Regions from separate parts of the Homo sapiens genome. Here region 2 is linked to region 1. Evidence: fine-mapped expression QTL. A gene starts in region 1. The other region holds a variant in brackets. All regions are shown on one strand. Distances are between the middles of the regions.

What was found. PIP is the estimated chance that this variant, and not a neighbour inherited with it, causes the effect. A credible set is the group of variants that fine-mapping cannot tell apart.
Region 2: its variant is the best candidate, but not a certain one, in a credible set for the expression of IQCK in whole blood (TOPMed, PIP 0.82).

The regions. Positions count from the first base shown.
Region 1 is chr16:19,713,576-19,723,484 of GRCh38, forward strand. It overlaps IQCK (IQ motif containing K), which reads left to right and starts at 4,696. Exons shown (of 9, transcript NM_153208.3): 1 at 4,696-4,912. The coding sequence starts at 4,732. It overlaps KNOP1 (lysine rich nucleolar protein 1), which reads right to left and starts at 4,652. Exons shown (of 5, transcript NM_001012991.3): 1 at 4,583-4,652; 2 at 543-1,462. The coding sequence starts at 1,460. RefSeq lists an enhancer at 4,576-4,905.
Region 2 is chr16:19,734,327-19,744,459 of GRCh38, forward strand. It overlaps IQCK (IQ motif containing K), which reads left to right. Exons shown (of 9, transcript NM_153208.3): 4 at 1,027-1,124. Among named protein-coding and RNA genes, the nearest start is that of IQCK, 21 kb to the left of the region's middle. The variant C/T (reference allele first, on the strand shown) is at 6,258.

The DNA of each region.
Region 1 (9,909 bases):
AGGAGGATGGGCCATAAACCAAGATAGAAAAATACAAAGCCCAGAGCTGAGGAAATCTCATACAGGCATCTCCGGCTACCCAAATCTATTTGATGTATAAATTGTGTATACTGAGCTGTGATGATACTCAGATAGCTACAGGCACTACGTTATCTCATGTTACTTGGTTCCTGAGTTTTGGATAGCAAGTGGCAAGAGTTCAGAAAGCAAGGGATTCATCTGAAAAATTGATCCCAGTTAATTCAGACCCCAACGGCAGACAGGGAAAACTTGGGTGGTTTCAGTAGCAAAGGATACCTGCAATTATCGATGATACTGCATGAGCCCCTAGATCCAGCCATACCTGAAGCTAGTTAACCATAACCTTTCCAATTGCATATATCAATAAACTCCCTATTCTGGCTGAAATTAATTTAACCAGGGTTTTAGCTAAAAGCATGAGTACTCGTGCATGTACAAACATGCACACACGCCTACACACCCCTCCCAAACCCCACCCTTAATTCTCCCACGGCAAAGTCCATTTCTGAAGGAAAAACTACCTCCTTCCAAGGGTCTCCTGCTACCCCACTCTCTTTCCTCTTCTTCTTTTTCTTCCTTTTCAGAGCTGGCTCCTCGATGACTGGCTGCTCTACCTTCTTTTTGGACTTCATCTTTTTCTTTGCGGAGGCCTTAGGGTCATCACTTATGGGGATGTATTCCGGAGCCTCAACTTTGACTGGCTTCTTTTTACTTCCTTTCCTAGGGCTGCTCTCCATGGACCTGGAGGGCTTGGAGTGGCCTGGGAGGGCATCTCCCTCCTGGTGGATTTTTTTTTTCTTCTTCACCTTCCCATTGTGTTCTCTGGGGCTCTTCCGCTTCCGTTTCTGCCCCAAGGCTGCCTGTTCCTCATCCTTCTTCCCCACTGAGCAAGTGTCCCCAACATCCCTGGCCTCCCTGGCCTCACAGAACCAAGGGTCCTGGACCGAGAAGGCTGTGGGGTCCTGGGCCCCCTTTTTTTCCTTCTTGTGTTTTTTGAGCTTCTTGCCAACTCTGGTTTCCTCCTCACCCTGTCTAGGGTCTGGGGAGGTTTTCACCCCAGAGGCATGGGACATGGCTAGAGGTGACTTCTTATTTTTCTTTTCCCCACTGAGGAACTCCAAGTGGCCAAACACCTGCTTCCTGAGGCTGGGTGACTTCTCTGTCCGTCTAGCAGGCAGCGTGGTCTCAGGTTCTACATGCTCCTCGCAAAGGGTGCTGACACCCTTCTTTTTCTTCTTCTTTTTCTTCACTAGAGGCATCTCAGGTGCCTGCCCATGGGCCACACTCTTAGAGGGGGATGTAGCTCTTAAAGGAGAAACATCAGCAAAGTAATCATCATTGTTTAAAACTGAGTATCGAGTCTCTGGTTCTTTGACCACTTTCTTCTTCTTTTTCTTCTCTGGGAGCCCAAGGTCTACTTTGTGTGTCTTGGTGATCATTCCTGAAAAAACAAATGGTACAAGTTATCCCATACCAAGCCATCCTGTGTTCAATTCTACTAAGCATTGCCAAGAGCCATGTTTCTTTGAGTGGGTGGTCAAAGCGTTGTGGGACAGGGAAAATGGACATGATTCCTTTAAAGCAAAAAAAGAAATACTACAGAAACAGCGTAAATTTTAAATCCACACAGCCCTAGGTTCAAACCTAAATGCCTCTCTCACCTTAAGTAAATCAGCTAACCTCCCTGAGCCTCAATTTCTCCATCTGGAAAATGGGGGAATATAACACCTCCCTCCTCAAAAGGGTGTTGGAGGGAGTAAATGAGATAACCCATGGAAAGGGCTTGGTACACTGTTAATTCCCTTTTTCTTTTTCTCTTTTTTTTTTTTTTTTTTTGAGACAGAGTCTTGCTCTGTCACCCAAGCTGGAATGCAGTGGCGTGATCTCGGCCCACTGCAACCTCCGTCTCCTGGGTTCAAGTGATTCTCCTGCCTCAGCCTCCCCTGAGTAGCTGGGATAACAGGCACCCGTGATCATGCCCAGCTAATTTTTTTTTTCTTTTTTAGGAGGGACGGGGTTTCTCCATGTTGGCCAGGCTAGTCTCAAACTCCTGACCTCAAGTGATCCGCCCGCCTCAGCCTCCCAAAGTGCTGGGATTACACGCATGAGCCACCTTGCCTGGCCTAGTTCCACTGTTTTTAAAATTTGAAGTTGATTGCCAACACTGAATGAGTCACAATGATGCACAGTACTGAGGGCACCCAGCTTGTCTTGGACAGATATCGTGGAAGCACCTGTGAGAATGGGCTGGGGTCCTCAATACCCATCAGTGTCCAGCTGGACCACTGCTCTCACTCCAGTCCCCAGCCAAGTTCCTGCACTAGACATTCCCAGAATCTAGAAGCAAAATATCCCAAAATATTTCATAGCAAGTTAGGATCATGGGAGGGAAAGGAAAAACTTCTCCATCCTGCAGCCCTCCTCAGCTTCGGAACTCAGAGGGTCCACACTGGAGCTGGCTCTCTCTTAGCAGCTTCAAAGAGCCAGGCCTGAGCTACAGGTCAAGTTCATTCATAACCCACTCCAGGCGCACCTGGAGAGTCAAGGGAATAACTATACTCATTCATTGCTGTCTGCCCTGTTTCCTGGTTTATTTCCAGTGTCCTGCTCAGTGCCTGGCACATAGCAGGTGCTCAATACATACTCACTGAATGAATGCACACATGCTAGGGATACAGAGATGAACAAGATAAAACACCACCCATCAAGAAGCAAGTAGGTGTGGGAGGGAATAAGGTGTAATACAATGATACAGGTGATAAAAGCAAGGACAGTGCTAAGGTCAGGGTGGTGGAGGTTGTGGAACCTGTCCTACCAGTTGTCAGGAAAATTTCTGAAGAACAACTGCAGGATGGTGGTATTAATCCCTGAGACAAAGGTACTGAAGGCAAGTGGCTGAAGAACAGGCTTGATTGGACAGATGACTTGGAGATGTTCACTGGACAGGTGAATATATATGGATGAGGAGTTTGGGTGGCCGTGCTGACACGGGCGACATAAAGTTAGGAATGTATGGGTGGTGATAAGCCTTGAACAGAACAAGCCTGAGACAAGACTTCAAGAAATACAGTAGCTCGCCACCTAATCCCAGGTTTCCGTTACCCCTGGTCAACCCTGGTCCCAAAATAGGTGAGCACAGTACAGGAAGTTATCTTGAGAGGGAGACCACATGCATGCAACTTTTATTACAGTATACTGTTGTAATTGTTCTATTTTATTACTAGCTAGATTGTTGGTAATCGTTTACTGCACCTAATTTTTTGTGAGACAAGGTCTGGCTCTGTTGCCCAGGCTGGAGTGCAGTGGCATCATCTCGGCTCACTGCAACCTCCACCTCCCGGGTTCAAGCAATTTTCACGCCTCAGCCTCCCGAGTAGCCGGGATTACAGGCACATACCACCACGCCCGGCTAATTTTTGTATTTTTAGTAGGGACGGGGTTTTACTATGTTGGCCAGGCTGGTCTCCAACTACTGGCCTCAGGTGATCCGCCCGCCTCATCCTCCCAAAGTGCTGGGATTACAGGCATGAGCCACCACGCCCGGCCCTACTGTGCCTAATTTATAAACTTTCTCATAGATAGTATACACAAGAAAAAACAGTTATATTTAGGGTTCGGTACTGTCTGTGGTTTCAGGCATCCACTGGGGGTTTAGGAACGTACTGCCCGCGGATAATGGGGGAGGGGGACTATTGTATTGGCATTTAAATAAGTGGGCAGAGATAAAGGAGCTTGCAAAGAAGAAGGTGCAAACCTTGAAATAGTGTAGTCAGGAGAGCCAAGACGACTTCAGAATAGGGGAGCAGTCAAGAGAGCCAAGACGACTTCAGAATAGGGGAGCAGTCAAGAGAGCCAAGACGACTTCAGAATAGGGGAGTGGCCAAGAGATCTGGTAAGAACAAAGAATCCACCGGGAGGTTGCGGGTCAACTCTTAATCCCCTTCTCTCCCCATCTCTTGCCATTTAGAAAAGTATAGCATCCTCCTCTTTAGCCCTGCGACCAAATGCATTCACTCTTTCAAGGAGAAAGGAAAAGAACGTTACAGTGCATCTCCTGCAAACGCAAACGCTTTCTCCAAAACCGCTTTTAAATTCCAGGGACAGCCTTGTGAAGATCTTTGTGAATACCCGACCTCGCAAGCTCCAGAGACTACAATAATTCACTTGCCCTAGGTTCCAAAGCCAGCAAGTGGAAAACGGAGACTGGAATTCCGCCCACAGGACTCCAAAGCCTGTGCAGCAACACCCCACTCCCCCGGCAGGATCACCAGCAGGACGCGCGGGAGCCAGGAAGTAAGATCCGTACCTCCAAGGCTCCCATGGGCCCAAGCCTCCGCATCAACAGACTGGGAGGGATTACGTGGGGTCCCAGGGCCGGCTCTGAGGCGGGAAAACTTTCTGGAGGCGGCGGCCTCAGGCCGGAGCGGGCGCACACCGACTGGAGGGGTCGGATTCAGGGATGTGGGTGGACCGCATTTCCCCATCTTCCCCGCCGCGCACTTCCTCTGGTGCAATCTCCACACCCCGCGCCGGCCCGCCTGCAACGCGCCCTGGCACTCACCGGTGGGCGAAATTTCCCCGCCTCCACGTGAGAGCCAGCTCCGCCGTGACCCGGAAGTCCACTTCGAGTCGCCGGCCCACCCTCTCGGGTTCCGGCTTCTTCCGGGTCGCGGCCTTCCGGCGAACGCGGTTACCGTGGAAACCGCGGCCATGGCGGCACCGCGGCAAATCCCCAGCCACATAGTGCGCCTCAAGCCCAGCTGCTCTACAGACTCGTCGTTCACCCGGACGCCGGTGCCCACCGTGTCTCTCGCGTCCCGCGAGCTGCCTGTCTCGTCGTGGCAGGTCACCGAGCCGTCAAGCAAGAATCTGTGGGAGCAGATCTGCAAGGGTAGGAAACCTGGGCTGGCCGAGAGGGGCGGGACCCGGGCGGCCGGACGGGGGCCGCGTTTGGGGAGCGCCCACTGTGCGCCTGTCGGCTGACGGGCGGGGCCGCCGGGCAGCGGCTCCGCGGGCCCGGGCTCCGCATTTTACGCATGGGGAAACTGAGGCTCGGAGAGGCTGGCCCGAGGTTACGCAGCGCGGACTCCAATCGCGATCCGTAGTGAGGTTAAAGGCAAGGGAACGGCGAGGGAAAGCTGAATAAAGAGAACCATGCGGTGTGGACCATTGGTTCTTAAACCTCGGTTAGTGAACCGAAAGGAATTGCTGGGGCGGGGGCCGGGGTGGGGATCTTGTTATAAACGGAGGTTCCCAGGCCCCGCCCACAGAGCTTCAAATTGGGATGCAGGGAATCTGCACTTTTTAAAAGAGCACCCCAGGTAATCCTAACGTAGGTAGTCGGTGGCCCACACGTTCAGTAACCATGGTGTGGACAAACGGGTTTTAGTCCCTTCTTGCTTCAAACCTTCCTTAACCTCCCCAGGCGGAGTTGAGCACATCTTCCTTTGTGGCTCTACTCAGTATTTGTTACTTAGGTTGGGCAAATTATTTAACTTATGACCCTGTCTGCAAAGTGGGCATAATAATGGCACCTATTTCGATGGTGTTAAGAAGATGGAACCAGATAGTCACAAAAAGTGCTTAGCAAACTGCCTGATTTTAGGAGGGCAAAAGGATTATTGGGGAAAAAAAAACACAAACTGCTCGATTTACAGAAGGAGCTACGTAAGCGCTAGTTCTTAATGAATAATGTTGGGTGGGATGTTTTCTTTTTCCTCCACTAGACCATAAGCTCCTCAAGGTCAAGGACTCAGATTTTTCATTCGTGTGGCCACCATCACTACCTAAGCTGCCTGAAACAGCGCGGTGAAACCCCGTCTCTACTGAAAATACAAAAAAAAAATTATCTGGGCGTGGTGGTGTGCGCCTATAATCTCAGCTACTTGGGAGGCTGAGGAAAGGGAATTGCTTGAACCAGGGAGGTGGCGTTGCAGTGAGCCGAGTTTGCGCCACTGCACTCCAGCCTGGGTGACAGAGCGAGACTCCATCCCCAAAAAAAAAAAAGTGTGGTTAGTTAGCATTTGAAATGTGATTAGTGCAATTGAGTAACTGAATTTCTTGTTGGACTCAAATTTTTTTTTTTTTTTTTTTTTTGAGACGGCATGTTGCTCTGTCGCCCAGGCTGGAATGCAGTGGCACTGGCTGGGCTCACTGCAACCTCCGCCTCCCGGGTTCAAGCATTCTCACACCTCAATCTCCTGAGTAGCTGGGATTACAGGCACCCGTCATCATTCCTGGCTAATTTTTTTATTTTTGTAGAGAAGGGGTTTCACCATTTTGGCCAGGCTGCTCTTGAACTCCTGACCTCAGGTGATCTACCTGCCTCGGCCTCCCAAAGTGCTACAATTACAGGCCTGAGCCACCAGGCCCAGCCCAGACTTAATTTTAATAAATTTAAATAGCCACATTTGGATAGTGGCTGCTGTATTGGATAGTGCAGGTCAGTAAATGTTTATTGAATGGAAAAAAAGAATGAATGTACCAGTATATGCGATGACTCGAAAGAAGTGGAGAATACAGAGAAGGAAGAGAATAGTAGACTCAGTTGATAGATGCCCTCCAAAGCTGTCTGTTTCAACCCCATCCAGTACTTAAATTCCTTCTCCAACCTTACATTGTGCTAGAAAAATCCCTTTCATTTTGCATGTTCTCTTTGTCACTTTCACCCCTACGTCCTTACCTCTTGGTGCTATGATCCAAGGAGCTAATCACTCTACCCCAAAGAATCTACTCAGATAATTTGACGGTAGTTATTGTGGCTGCCTTTTCCCCAGAGCTTTCACTTCTCCAAGCCAAACAGTTTCTTATAATACAGTTTACTAGAGGATTGTTAGAAAAGTTACTCAGCCTCATCTGTAAGAGACAGATAATTGTTGTGCCTACCTCACAGGGCTGTTGTGGGGACCAAGTAAGATAATGTATGAAAAGGTGCTTAGCACAGTGCCTGGCATTTAAAAAGTAGTCAATAAATGTTCATTATTGTTGACAAAGAAACATGCCTTGTGTTGTGATTTACACACCGAGTTTATTTTGGTCAAATAGGCCTCTAGAGAGAAAGCAAAGACAAAGGGTTTTGGTTCTCTCTGAAGAGCAAGTGAATTGATGCCACTTTTAAAATGATAGAGTTACAGAATGAGGTCAGGCATGGTGGCTCACACCTGTAATCCCAGCACTTTGGGAGGCCAAGGCGGGTGGATCACCTGCGGTCAGGAATTGGAGACTAGCCTGGCCAACATGTTGAAACCCTGTCTCTACTAAAAATATAAAAACTAAGTCAGGCTTGGTGGTGGGTAATCCCAGCTACTCAGGAGACTGAGGCAGGAGAGTCGCTTGAACCTGAGAGGCGGAGGTTGCAATGACCTGAGATCGTGCCACTGCACTCCAGCCTGGGCAACAAAGTAAGAATCCGTCTAGAAAAAAAAAAAAAACAATTCAGTGAGGTCAACATTGGCAAACTATACACATGGACACTGTGATGAGTATTATAACAGATGGATAAACCCAATTCTTAAACATCTAACAAATGCAGTTTTCTATAACATGTAGTAAATTCAGTTTCTGACAACAAACATGAAAAAACAGGCTTTGTAGTAATCCTATCTTTGAGATTAAGTACTACATTCTCTTAAGATAATCTCCATTCAAAAGACAAATTATCATAGCAAACAGACCTGCCAGAAACTCAATTTCATGAAGACAAAATACAAAGTAGGTCAATATCTAACTTACACAGACCTTAACCAACCTGACTAGTGCTCTTTTGTATGTATGTGCATGCTCACCACTATAACTTATTTGTAAATATTCTTCAGTTTTCTCCCTCATCTTTCCAGTGACAACTGAGTTTTGTATTCTAAAAAGCACTCGTGTTAGTGTCAATAAACTTCTTCCCGGCCAACACTTCTAATCAAATCTTATAGTAGTTTGTGACTAGCTGTGTTCATGGTTTTAATCAAGACAATCAAAGGATGTGGGGCTTAACAGTTTCCTTTTTTTTTTTTTTTTGAGATGAAGTCTGGCTCTGTCACCCAGGCTGCAGTGCAGTGGCGCAATCTCGGCTCACTGCAACCTCTGCCTCCCAGATTCAAGCAATTCTCCTGCTTCAGCCTCCCAAATAGCTGGGATTACAGGCACCCACCACCATGCCTGGCTAATTTTTTGTAGAGATGGGGTTTTGCCATGTTGGCCAAGCTGGTCTCAAACACCTGACCTCAAGCAGTCAGCCCGCCTCATCCTCCCAAAGTGCTGGGATTACAGGCGTGAGCCACCGCGCCTGGCCTTACAGTTTCCTATTTTGATATGCTGTGATTACTGTTATCAGCATCCTCACTATTGTCATTGGTTCATCACTTAATCAAGCACTCTCTGGCCTCAGCCCTCAATGCTGTTGTAAAATCTGGCCTTTCATTTCACCTGCCAGATACCGACATGGATCAGTTGTGAATCAATACTTGTTCCTCCAGCACAGCCACTGAGCCAGCTGAAGAAAGATGACCCCAACTGGCTCTCAGCACTGCTCAGCAATCAGCATCTCTCAATGCCTTCTCCCATTGCCTGGTTCTACTAGTCCAAGTCTGTAACACCTCCTGAAATGTTCTGTGATACCTCTTAGCATAGGATGCGTTCACTGAGAAGAGTCAGGCAGTCAGGAGTGGGGAGGGAGTCTGCTAACATCCATCTGTACACGTGGAAGAAGCTCTCACCCCGCTACTCGCCACTCAGCTCTCCATCTTTGCTTACCGTCCCCTTGCTATTCCAGGATCCTGCTTTATCACTCACTTCCTCTGCTACGCCTTTAACTTCTCTACTAGCTTTTTCCTCCAAACACCCCTGGCCTGTCATATCAGGAAGAAACCTCCACCATGACCCTATATCCTCTTCCAGCTCCTATCAGTCTTTCATTCCCATTCCCTTATCAACTAAGGGCAGACCAGCTTCTTCCTCATTTCTCCGAATAAATTGTTCTTAAGCATTGAGCCAACTTGTATCTACCAGGGCTGGGAACTGTTTTCAATGCTGGGCCAGGTATAACTGCAGGCACTGTTTTAGACGCCAACAACTTATCTCCATCTCCACGAATGTTACCATCGTTCACTCAGCTGCCCAGTCCAGCTTTTTTTTTTTTTTCCTTCCCTTGAGACAGAGTCTTGCTCTGTTGCCCAGGCTGGAGTACAGAGGTGCGATATCTGCTTACTTCAACTTCCACCTCCCAGGTTCAAGCAATTCCCCCACCTCAGCCTCCTGAGTAGCTGGGATTACAGGCACTTGACACCATGCCCAGCTAATTTTTGTATTTTTAGGTGGGGTTTCACCATGTTGGCCAGGCTGGTGTCGAACTCCTGACCTTAGGTGATCCACCCGCCTCAGCCTCCCAAAGTGCTGGGATTACAGGCGTGAGCTACCGCATCCGGCCTGCTTCCCTTTCACTTTCCACGGCCCCACACTCTCATTTGCCAGTCCTTATAGATTCTACCTGTTTAATATCTCCCACCATCCCCACCCTGCCCCCACTCCCCACCCCCACCAGTCTTCATGTCTGCTGCCTTAGATCAGGCCCTTACCACCCCCTGCTTAGATTGCTGCTGTGGCTTGTTAATTGAGGCAGGCCTCCTTCCAGACCATATCCCACTGGCTGTCGTAGGAACCTCTCTAAAATTCAAATCTAATCGCATCATGCTGTGACCTACAATGATTTTCATAGCTTACAGATAAACTCCTTAGCTTAACCCTTAAGCTTCTTAACGTCCCATCTCTGTTTACTTTTCTTAGTTCACAACATACCATTCACCCAAATCATCCTAATGGCAACCATTTATTGAGCTGCTGTTTATGTGCCAGGCATTGTGCTAGGTGCATTACTTCTCATTTAAGCCTCACAGCAACAGA
Region 2 (10,133 bases), 21 kb after region 1:
TCTCTACTAAAAATACAAAAATTAGCTGGGCATGGTGGCAGGAGAATCTCTTGAACCTGGGAGGCGGAGGTTGCAGTGAGCTAAGATCGTGCCACTGCACTCCAGCCTGGGCAACAGACTAAGACTCCATCACAAAAAAAAAAAAAAAAAAAATTATCCAGGCATGGTGGTGCACACTGATAACCCTAGCTACTTGGGAGGCTGAGGCAGGAGAATCGCTTGCACTCGGGAAGCGGAGGTTGCAGTGAGCTGAGATCGCACCACTGCGTTCCAGCCTGGGTGACAGAGCGAGAAAAAAAAAAAAATTAGCTGGGTGTGGTGGCAGGTACTTGCAGTCTCAGCTATTTGGGAGGCTAAGGTGGGAAGATTGCTTGAGCCTGAGAGGTCCAGGATGCAGTGAGCTATGATTGTGCCACTGCACTCCAGCCTGGGCGACAGAGTGAGACTCTGTCTCAAAAAAAAAAAAAAAAAGTAAAAAGTAGAAGAAAACATCATCATGCTTCCCTGCTTTGTGTGTGGAAGCAGGGGTGTATACTGCAGATCTGAGTCGTAGTTCCTTGGGCCCTCCCTGGTACCAGACCCTCTCCTACTGGTTTGTTCTGTGCCTTCTGCATGCCTTGGGCCTTGGCTAACGACTGCCTTTATTACTGTGACCCTAAGCCCTTACCCATTATACTCTGACTCCCAATTCCTCTCTGCTCCCATTTCCTACCACACTCCCCTTGTTTTTGTCCCTCCGGCCACACTGGGCCCCTTGCTATTCCTGCTTTGGGGCCATAACAAGCTGGTGGACCTGGCCTTATGTAGGATACTTCCTACATCTTCACCAGACTATAGAGGCTCAGAGGGACATTTTAAGTTACTTTAGTTATACAGCCCAGCTCTGTAGTCTGGAGCAAAATATAACATCTAAGATCATGTGATTGAATGGACAGTACCTTTTTCTGGCTCAAAAGTAAACATTTCTCCCAGATTGGCTCGGGCCACTGGGGATTTGCAGGGGGAATTTTTGTTTGTTTGTTTTAGGTTCTCCCAAAGAATATTTGGAAACTTTCATCTTTCCTGTTCTGCTTCCCGGAATGGCTAGCCTGCTTCACCAAGCGAAGAAAGAAAAATGTTTTGAGGTCAGTTGTTTGGCAGGATTTCTTTATTTTGAGATTCTCAATCATTCATTATTATCAGATGATAGCTCATTATCTTGGTACCATCAGGTTGTTCTCCAGATGACCCCTTCGGGAGGGAAAGCCTGTGTTTGGGGTCACTTACCCAGTTCCAGCCACACCATCTAGTTGTGCACATACATGCGCTGCCATCTGTCTGGCCACTTGGACTCCGGAGAGCTTTTCCGCCTTGCTTGGCCTCCTGCCTGCCCTTCTCCTGTGCAGTTTGGCATCCACCAGGTTTCTTGGGTCTTCAGCTTCTGTTTATTACATGCACTGATTAAAGCTCTCCTTGGCCGGGCACGGTGGCCCATGCCTATAATCCCAGCACTTTGGGAAGCTGAGGTGGGAGGATCACTTGATGCCAGGAGCTCAAGACCACTGGGCAACATAGTGAGACCCCCATCTCTAAAAAAAATTTTTTTTTAAATTAGCTAGGTGTGGTGGCGCATACCTGTAGCCTCAGCTACTCAAGAGGCTGAGGCAGGAAGGCCCCTTGAGGCCCAAAGTTTGAGGTTGCAGTGATCCATGATCACGTCACTGCACTCCAGCCTGGGCAATAGCAAGACCCTCAACTCAAAAAAAAAATCCCACAGAACTCTGCTTACTTCTTACTTGGCTCTAGATTGATTGTTCCCCCTGGCATCTCTCTACTCCATGCCAACTGTCATGAATGTAAACTGCTCGCAGAGAGTCTTGGAACACAGTAAGTGCTCAGTAAATAACATTAACATCACACTGCAGAGAATCAGCTTCTCTGCAGGGAAGTTTTAGTTTAGTATCTTTTTTCTTTTTGAGACAGGGTCTTGCTCTGTTTTCAGGCTGGGGTGCAGTGGCGTAATCATGGCACACTGCAGCCTCAACCTCCAGGGCTCAGTTGATCCTCCCACCTCAGCTTCCTGAGCAGCTGGGACTACGGGTATGCACCACCACGCCTGACTGATTGATTGATTGATTGATTGATTGTAGATACTGGGCAAAAACTCAGTGAACTCGGTAGAAACCGAGTTCCGATGCTGGCCTACACCCACGCGGATACCCTTAGAGGCTCCCTCTTTTCCGTAGTTCACGGGATACTTTGGGTGTATGTGTTCCCTGCACAGTTTTGAATTCTAGAATTTTGGATGATCCAGATGAAGAGAGTAAAATTACAACATTTATTATTGACCAGGCACTCGCTCTGTGCCAGGCACTTTGCTGAGTGCTGCATCTTCCATTATTGCAGTTGCTCTCCCCAGCCATGTGAGCTTCCTTCTATTATTATTATCTGCACTCTGCAGAGGAGAAAATGGAGGGACACAGAGGCCTGAAATGTGATCAAGGGTGAATGGCAGAGTTAGGACTCAAATCCAGATTAAATGATTCAAAATGATACTAAAGGCCGGGCACAGTGGCTCATGCCCATAATCCCAGCACTTTGGGAGGCCAAGGCAGAAGGATTGTCTGAGCCCAGGAGTTCGAGACCAGCCTGGGCAACAAAGTGAGACCCGGTATTTACAAAAAAAAAAAAAAAAAGAAAAAGAAAATTAGCCAGGCATGGTGGTGCATACCTGTAGTCCCAGCTGCTCATGGGGCTGAGATGGGAGGATCAACTGAGCCCTGGAAGTTGAGGCTGCAGTGTGCCATGATCATGCCACTGCACCCCAGCCTGGAAACAGAGCAAGACCCTGTCTCCAAAAGAAAAAAAAGATACTAAAAAAGTCGGCAGTAATTACAGTGTAAACCCCAATGAGGTTGACACATCCTAGGGTCTATAAAATTATCCATAGTTAATGATATCACCCAACTAGTTGCCCTTCAGCACAGGGTCCCCATCTGAGAACTGCCTACTGCCGTGCTGGTACTTCTATATACTGAGGAAATAAGGTTTTCCCATGTTCTAGCAAATACCCGATGTTTCCTCAGCAATGCCTTCACAGTATCCTGCCCCACTTGCCTCTTAATCACTCCATATTATACCTCCCCCTAATTGCCTGCCACTTAATTTGCTCAGCATAACATTCCTTTGACAGGCGTCACCATGACAGTTGTGTCTTTACTTGAGGCAGAAATGGATGATGAGACATTGATCAGAATTTGGGTAGCACGCTTAGGAAGGAAGAATTTGGGATACACCTCTGGGCCGTGGTTCACCATTTGACAACAGTAGATCCACATAACGAAGTCACTAGCCCTCAGCCTAGCTTTCAAGGCTCTGCCTAGTTCATGTGTTCATTGGTTCCTTCCTTCCTTTCTCCCTCCGTCTCTCCCCCGCAGTGCTCCCCTTCCCGATGGTACCCTCCACCCAAGCAGAACCACTCGAAGTTCGCTGCACCAACCCCCACCTCACGGCCTCTGTGCATCTGCTTCTGCTTTTTTTAGAAAAAAAATCCCTGAGCTCCTCTTCTCTGCATATTTAACTTCTACTTGTTTTTCCAAACTCAGCTCCATAACTTCTCTCTGAAGCTTCCAGTTCCCTGCTGGGCTCAAACTAGAAGTAATTGATCCCAACTCTCAGATTTCAGAGTATTTCATCTGTTCCTCATTTTATGGCAAATTAAGACATCCTTAATTAAGACATTCTTAGCCCACATATACTTAATTTTATGCATGTCTGTCTCCCCCTGTATTTTAAGTTCCTTGGGGACAGATTCTCTGATTTATTTTTATATCTTTAGTCAATGCTACCCAATGCCTAGCACATGGTGAACATAGAGTTGGCCCTTGATAAATATTAAATAAGTGAATGCATGATTATACACCAGGGAATGTCACTATTACTATGTCTTTGACCAAAACCCAGCTTCCTTCTATCTGGGAAGGCTGTTCTATTGGACTCATCCCTGGAGAAATTCCCTGGAGGGGTGAGGAAAGAAGATATGCTTCTATTTCATGAGTTTAGTTGATGGAGGAGAACAGTGAGGGGCAAATGACACAGTCTGACCCCCCCCACCTCATATATTAATTATGCAAATAATTAGTAAATTGGGCCTTGATTTATAGCGCAGCAGTTAAGAGCAACACTTGAGTCAAAGTTACCTGATTTTGAAGTCCACCTCCATCCCAGCTGGCAGCATAGCCCAGGACAAGTCATTTCATCTTTCTGAGCCATTATCACTTCCTTCCATGTAAAATGAGGCTGATCATAGCACCTGCTCATGGGATTATTATGCCGATGAAATGAGGTAGCTCATGTAAAGTACTTAGGCCAGTCCCTGGAACCTAGGAAGAACTCAATACATGTTAACTTATTTATCTCAGTGATACAGTGGTACAGGTACTTCCCAGATATTGTGGGTTACACCTGCTACCTGAGTGGTGTCACTCTTGTTCCTTCGCCATCTAGAGTCCTTATTCAGGACTTGGTCCCAGTTCCCAGAAAAACCATCCAATTCCACAGTGATCTCGCAAGGAGGGTTTGTTTTATGGGTTCTCTCATGGGAAGGTGGGGAAGAGGGTTGTGTTGGCACTTATCAAGCAATACTTCGTTAGTCCTCTCTGGAAGCATTTCTCACCCTCTGGGAACCCCCTCCCCATGCTCCCTCTGCAGACCCCTTTTGGATCCTGAACAATTCAGCTGTGGCTCTCAGCTTGCATGGCCCACTCAGCAAGGCCAAGCCCAGCATGCAGCTTTCCCTCCTCTCTTAAATGCAATTCAGCTATCATGTAGCCCTTGCAGGTGGAACTGGGGGTGGGGGCTTCACATCTCTCACCCCAACAAAGACACAGTTGTAAGGTTTTCCTCATATTGCTTTGTCAGAAATCCTAGTTTTGACACATAGGCCTGGTGAATTCAAATCTGGGGACCTCAGTCCCCACTCTTTCTCCTGATGTGCTACTACAGTCATGGTTGTCATATTGAACCTGGGAAGACCATAATGATCAGATCCCTTATTTTCACTAACAAGAGAGGGCACTCTGCTGATGAGAACTGTAAACAAAAAAGCTGGTAAAATAAAGTCAATGATTCAGGTACTGATGATTAAATCCAGGTAATTGCTCTCCTGTCACCTGTGGTTTGAGTACTGGTATGATAATCATCAGAAATTATATCAAAAGTCAGAGAAGACCCAGTGTGGTGGCTCATGCCTATAATCCCAGCACCTTGGGAGGCTGAGGCGTGTGGATCACTGGAGCTTAGGAGTTTGAGACCACCCTGGGTAACATGCCAAAACCCCATCTCTACAAAAAATACGAAAATTAGCTGGGCATGGTGGCACATGCCTGTGGTTCCAGTTACTTGGGAGGCTGAGGTGGGAGAATCACTTGAACCCTGGAAGTTGAGTCTGCAGTGAACCATGATGGCGCCACTGCACTCCAGCTTGGTTGACAGAGTGAGACCCTGTCTCAAAAAAAAAAAGAGGAGCCCTCTCATTGATTTATTGCCCGTTGTGCGTCAGCACTGGCATCCTATGCACCATCTTGTTTCACCCTTACAATAACCTTCTGAACCAGATCTTCTTTTTCATCACCTCCCTTTTACCAAGGATGGCCCTGGGACACAGAGAAGTTGAGCATTACTCAAGGTCACCTAGTAAGCAACAGACAGCACACATCTCCAACCAAGGCCCAGATGATCCTGAAGCCTGGGTTTCCATCCCTCCTAGTAAATGGGAGTTGGAGGCTGTCCTCAAAATAGCTCCCAGAGATACTGATTTTTTTTCATTCATAGCTATTTTCTGAAGAACAGACTGCTTACTTGCCTTCAGTTATCAAATTTAAACGGCTTCTAATTCTTATCTGTTTTTTCATTTGCTCACTTGGCTTTTCCTGACAATTTAATTCTTGTCCACTACTCATAACTGACCTTCCCCCATCATCTGTGTTTTGACTACTGCTATGATCATCATCAGAAATTGTATCAAATTGTGGTGTGATACAGTTGGTAGGTATCCCGTGGTGTTAAACAGGTGCAAGGTGTGGCTGAATGGAAGGGGAGTGAGGCTGGGTTGAAGAGTGGTCCCAGAGCAGACCTTCAGCCTGGCCACACCATTGTCAGATGGCTTTGTCCCTCTGCCTTCTGTTCTGCTGCTAAGTGAGGAAGAGCACCTCACGAGTCACATTTCAGCAATTGTATCACTTTTTCCTATCTTGCTGTTGACCAAAGTATATTGAGTG[C/T]ACTGTGTCTTTTTATTCGATTGAACAAAGGATGGAATATAATGATCAAACAATGAAATGAGCACAGTGGAATAATCTTTGTTTTCATACATGTAAAGAATATCTGGCCGGGCACGGTGGGTCATGCCTGTAATGCCAGCCCTTTGGGAGGCTGAGGCATGTGGATCATGCAGTCAGGAGTTTGAGACCAGCCTGGCCAACATGGTGAAACCCCATCTCTACTAAAAATACAAAAATTAGCCGGGCGTGGTGGCAGGTGCCTGAGTCCCAGCTACTCGGGAGGCTGAGGCAGGAGAATGGCTTGAATCCGAGAGGCAGAGGTTGCAGTGAGCCAAGATCGTGCCACTGCACTCCAGCCTGGGCAACAGAGCGAGACTCCATCTAAAAAAAAAAAAAAAAAGAATATCTACAAGCAGGATGAAGCAGGATGAGTCGCCCATGTTTGGTTCTGTTCAACAAACATTCATTAAGCCCTGCTGTGTGCTGATCATGAGGCCAGACCCCAGGGCACACTGAGGGGACAAGAAGACATGGTCCTGTCCTAGAGGAGCCATAATGATGAACTAAAGTTGTTTTTATTTTTCTTCCCCTTGTGTCTGTTTTTTTCACTCCTCTGAAATAAGAATGAATAAGGAGAAATGGCTACAGTGGATCTGTAGCTGGGGATTCATTTCTAGACCTTGGTGCATGTATATTCCATTGTGCAACCTTTATTCTAATTTACTTGGCCATTATTCTTCTAATTTATACCCTTTCAGAGGGCACAAAAATCAGCTAAAAGGGCAGTAATTAAGATTTTACATGAAGGTTGCATATCTAATATTTGACCATAAATAATTTTGTAACAAGGGGGCTAGAAACAGTTTCCAGCCTGTAAGCAGTGATAAAATGCTTTGAAAGAACCAGATAAATTTCTAATTATATTAGAGATTAATGAGGCATCCTTGTGCCAACTCATATTTCATTGTTGACATCCTACAGATGAGCTACTCCTGAGACTAAATGAAAACAGTCTAGATGTCAGATGCTCCAGGGTGCTTGAACAGAGCATTAAAGTTTAAATTGTATAATGAATGATAAAGCAATGTAGAAAATGTGGGTTGTTAAAACTGTTCATATGTGGCCAGGCATGGTGGTTCATGCCTGTAATCCCACCACTTAGAGAGGCCGAGGCGGGAGGATTGCTTGAACCCAGGAGTTCGAGACCAGCCTGGGCAACATGGTGAAATCCCGTCTCTACTAAAAATACCAAAATTAGCCAGGTGTGGTTGCAGGCACCTGTAATTTCAGCTACTTGGGAGGCTGAGTCAGGAGACTTGCTTGAACCTGGGAGGCAGAGCTTGCAGTGAGCCAAGATCTCATCACTGCAGTCCAACCTGGGTGACAGAGTGAGACTGAGTCTCAAAAACAACAAAAACAACAACAAACTTGTTCACTTATAAGAGTGGAGAAGCTTGAAAGGCAGGCACACGGGAGTTCAAAATCCTGCTAGACTGCTTCCTTGCAGCATGGCCCTAAGTAATCCGTGAGCCTCAGTTTCCTCAACTATTGAAAGGACAGCAGACCTGCTCCTGTCATTGGGCGGAAGAGGGGAAGTAATGAATGATACTTCCAGACCCAAGGAATGTTAACTTCCTCCTCCTCTGCTTCTCACGCTTTGCCAGGAAGTTCAGTATTTTGAATGCTACAAATACGCAAGGTGGGTAAATTACTATTAACTTTCTTCATTTCCTGACTTAGGGTTTTTTAATTAAATCGGATTCCCTCCATGTTCCCCCGTCCCCGGTCATCTAGTCTTTTGTGGGTTATTTTCGAAGGCTTAAAAATGACATTAGTACCATTTCAACATTTGTCAGACCCAAGTGGAACTCCCCTTATCCTGATCTGCACAACAGATTCACATTTTCTTGATTCAGCTGTTCCTCACATCCTGTCATTGGGAATAGATGCTTAAACTGAATGATGACTGGCCTCCAACCAAAATTACATAACTGGGGCATTTTTATCTGTCACCCACAACTGAACTTGCATCCAATTGGCTCTTACACAGCAGCGTAATTCATTGTTTATTGATGCCATTCAAATTATATCTTGAAATAACATTTATATTAAGTTGCTCAAAAATACTTGCTGATCTGCGTTTTGCCCTTAAACTGCTGATGTCTAGTTATTTATACTTGACTTCATTATTTTTCTGTTTTTTCTTTCTATGACATGGCCCCCATAGTGCCTGGAACATAGTAGGAACTCAATGAGTATTTATTGGATAAATGAATGAATATGGATTCTCAAAAGATGGGGCTGGCCAGATGCAGTGGCTCATGCCTATAATCCCAGCACTTTGGGAGGCCGAGGCGGGTAGATCACTTGAGGTCAGGAGTTCAAGGCCACCCTGGCCAACATGGCAAAACCCTGTCTCTACTAAGAATACAAAAAAATTAGTTGGGCATGGTGGCACGTGCCTGTAATTCCAGCTACTCGGGAGGCTGAGGCAGGAGAATCGCTTGAACCCAGGTTGCAAAGGTTGCAGTGAGCTGAGATCACGCCACTGCCCTCCAGCCTGGGTGGCAGAGTGAGATTCTGTCTCAAATAAATAAATAAATAAATAAAAGTCAGGGCCTACTTTTAAGATCATAATTAAGCTACATGAGCACTCTGGAGGTCTGTGACCTTTATTCAGTTTGTTGTAGTTATTACACACAGGAGGTAATTTATTAACTATACCTGCAGTGACTGGATCTACTGCCTCTGGAGGGAGGTAAACAATGGGGAGACCGCCTAAGTCTGCTAGGCTCCCTGGAGCTGGAGCTGGGCAAGGAGCAAATCCCCTCAAATTGAAGGAGCCTCATTCACAGACAATGGAGAGCCAGAGAGTAGAGCAAGAGGCTAGGATTCAAGAATAGTAGTTGTCAGCACTTTTTGAGCCTTGCTTTGTGCCAGATGTCATTCTAAGCACTTTACCTGCAGTCACTCATTTAATCCTCCCAACAATCTTTGGAGGTGGATGCTATTATCATCATCTTATGGATCAGGGCTGTACAGCACCAGGGCTAACCAAGAAGCTTAAGTTCACAGCTAGAAAGTGGCAGAGCCAAGACTCAAACCAAGAATTGTTCCAGAGTCTAAGAGTTTGACCACTGCTCCACTCTGATGGTCAGTCACACAGCTTGCTGAAAGCAGAGGTCAGATTCTGACATGAAAGATGGGTCTGGAGGCTGTGGAGAAAAGGAGTGAGAAGTTAGCAAGCCTTTTATTTAGGTTGTCCTGCCAGTACCATGAAACTCCAAGGAAGACCAGGGGGAACAGAGCAGACAGAGAAACAGCAAGAGCTGGCACCTAATTACTATGCCATAGAGCATTTGGCCAATTACACACACATCTATTGTGTGGTGTGTGGTGTGTGTGGGTGTGTGTATAGGTGTAGGTGTGTCTGCACACATGAATTCAGGCATTGTGTGGTACATGGTTCAGCAATTCCATGATTCCAGCCTCTGGAATCAGGCAGACCCTTTCAACCCAGGCCTGTTCCCCAAAAGCTATGCAAGCTTGATTATTTTGATTTTGAGTCACTCATCTTGTGATTCTTTTATATATATCATTTTAAATACTATGAATTTAATATAGTTTCTAAACAAACAGTTGTTCCTGCTTAGATTATTTTTTCTTCTTTTCTCTAAGCACACAAATAGTATATTTTTTCATTTTAAAAATTATTTTCATTTTTATTTTTAGAGATGGGGTCTCACTGTGTTGCCCAGGCTGGTCTCAAACTCCTGAGCTCAAGTGGTCCTCCTGCCTTGGTTTCCCAAAGTCCTGGGATTACAGGGATAAGCCAGTGCACCTGGCCCATCTTAGATATTTAACTCTATTTTAAAT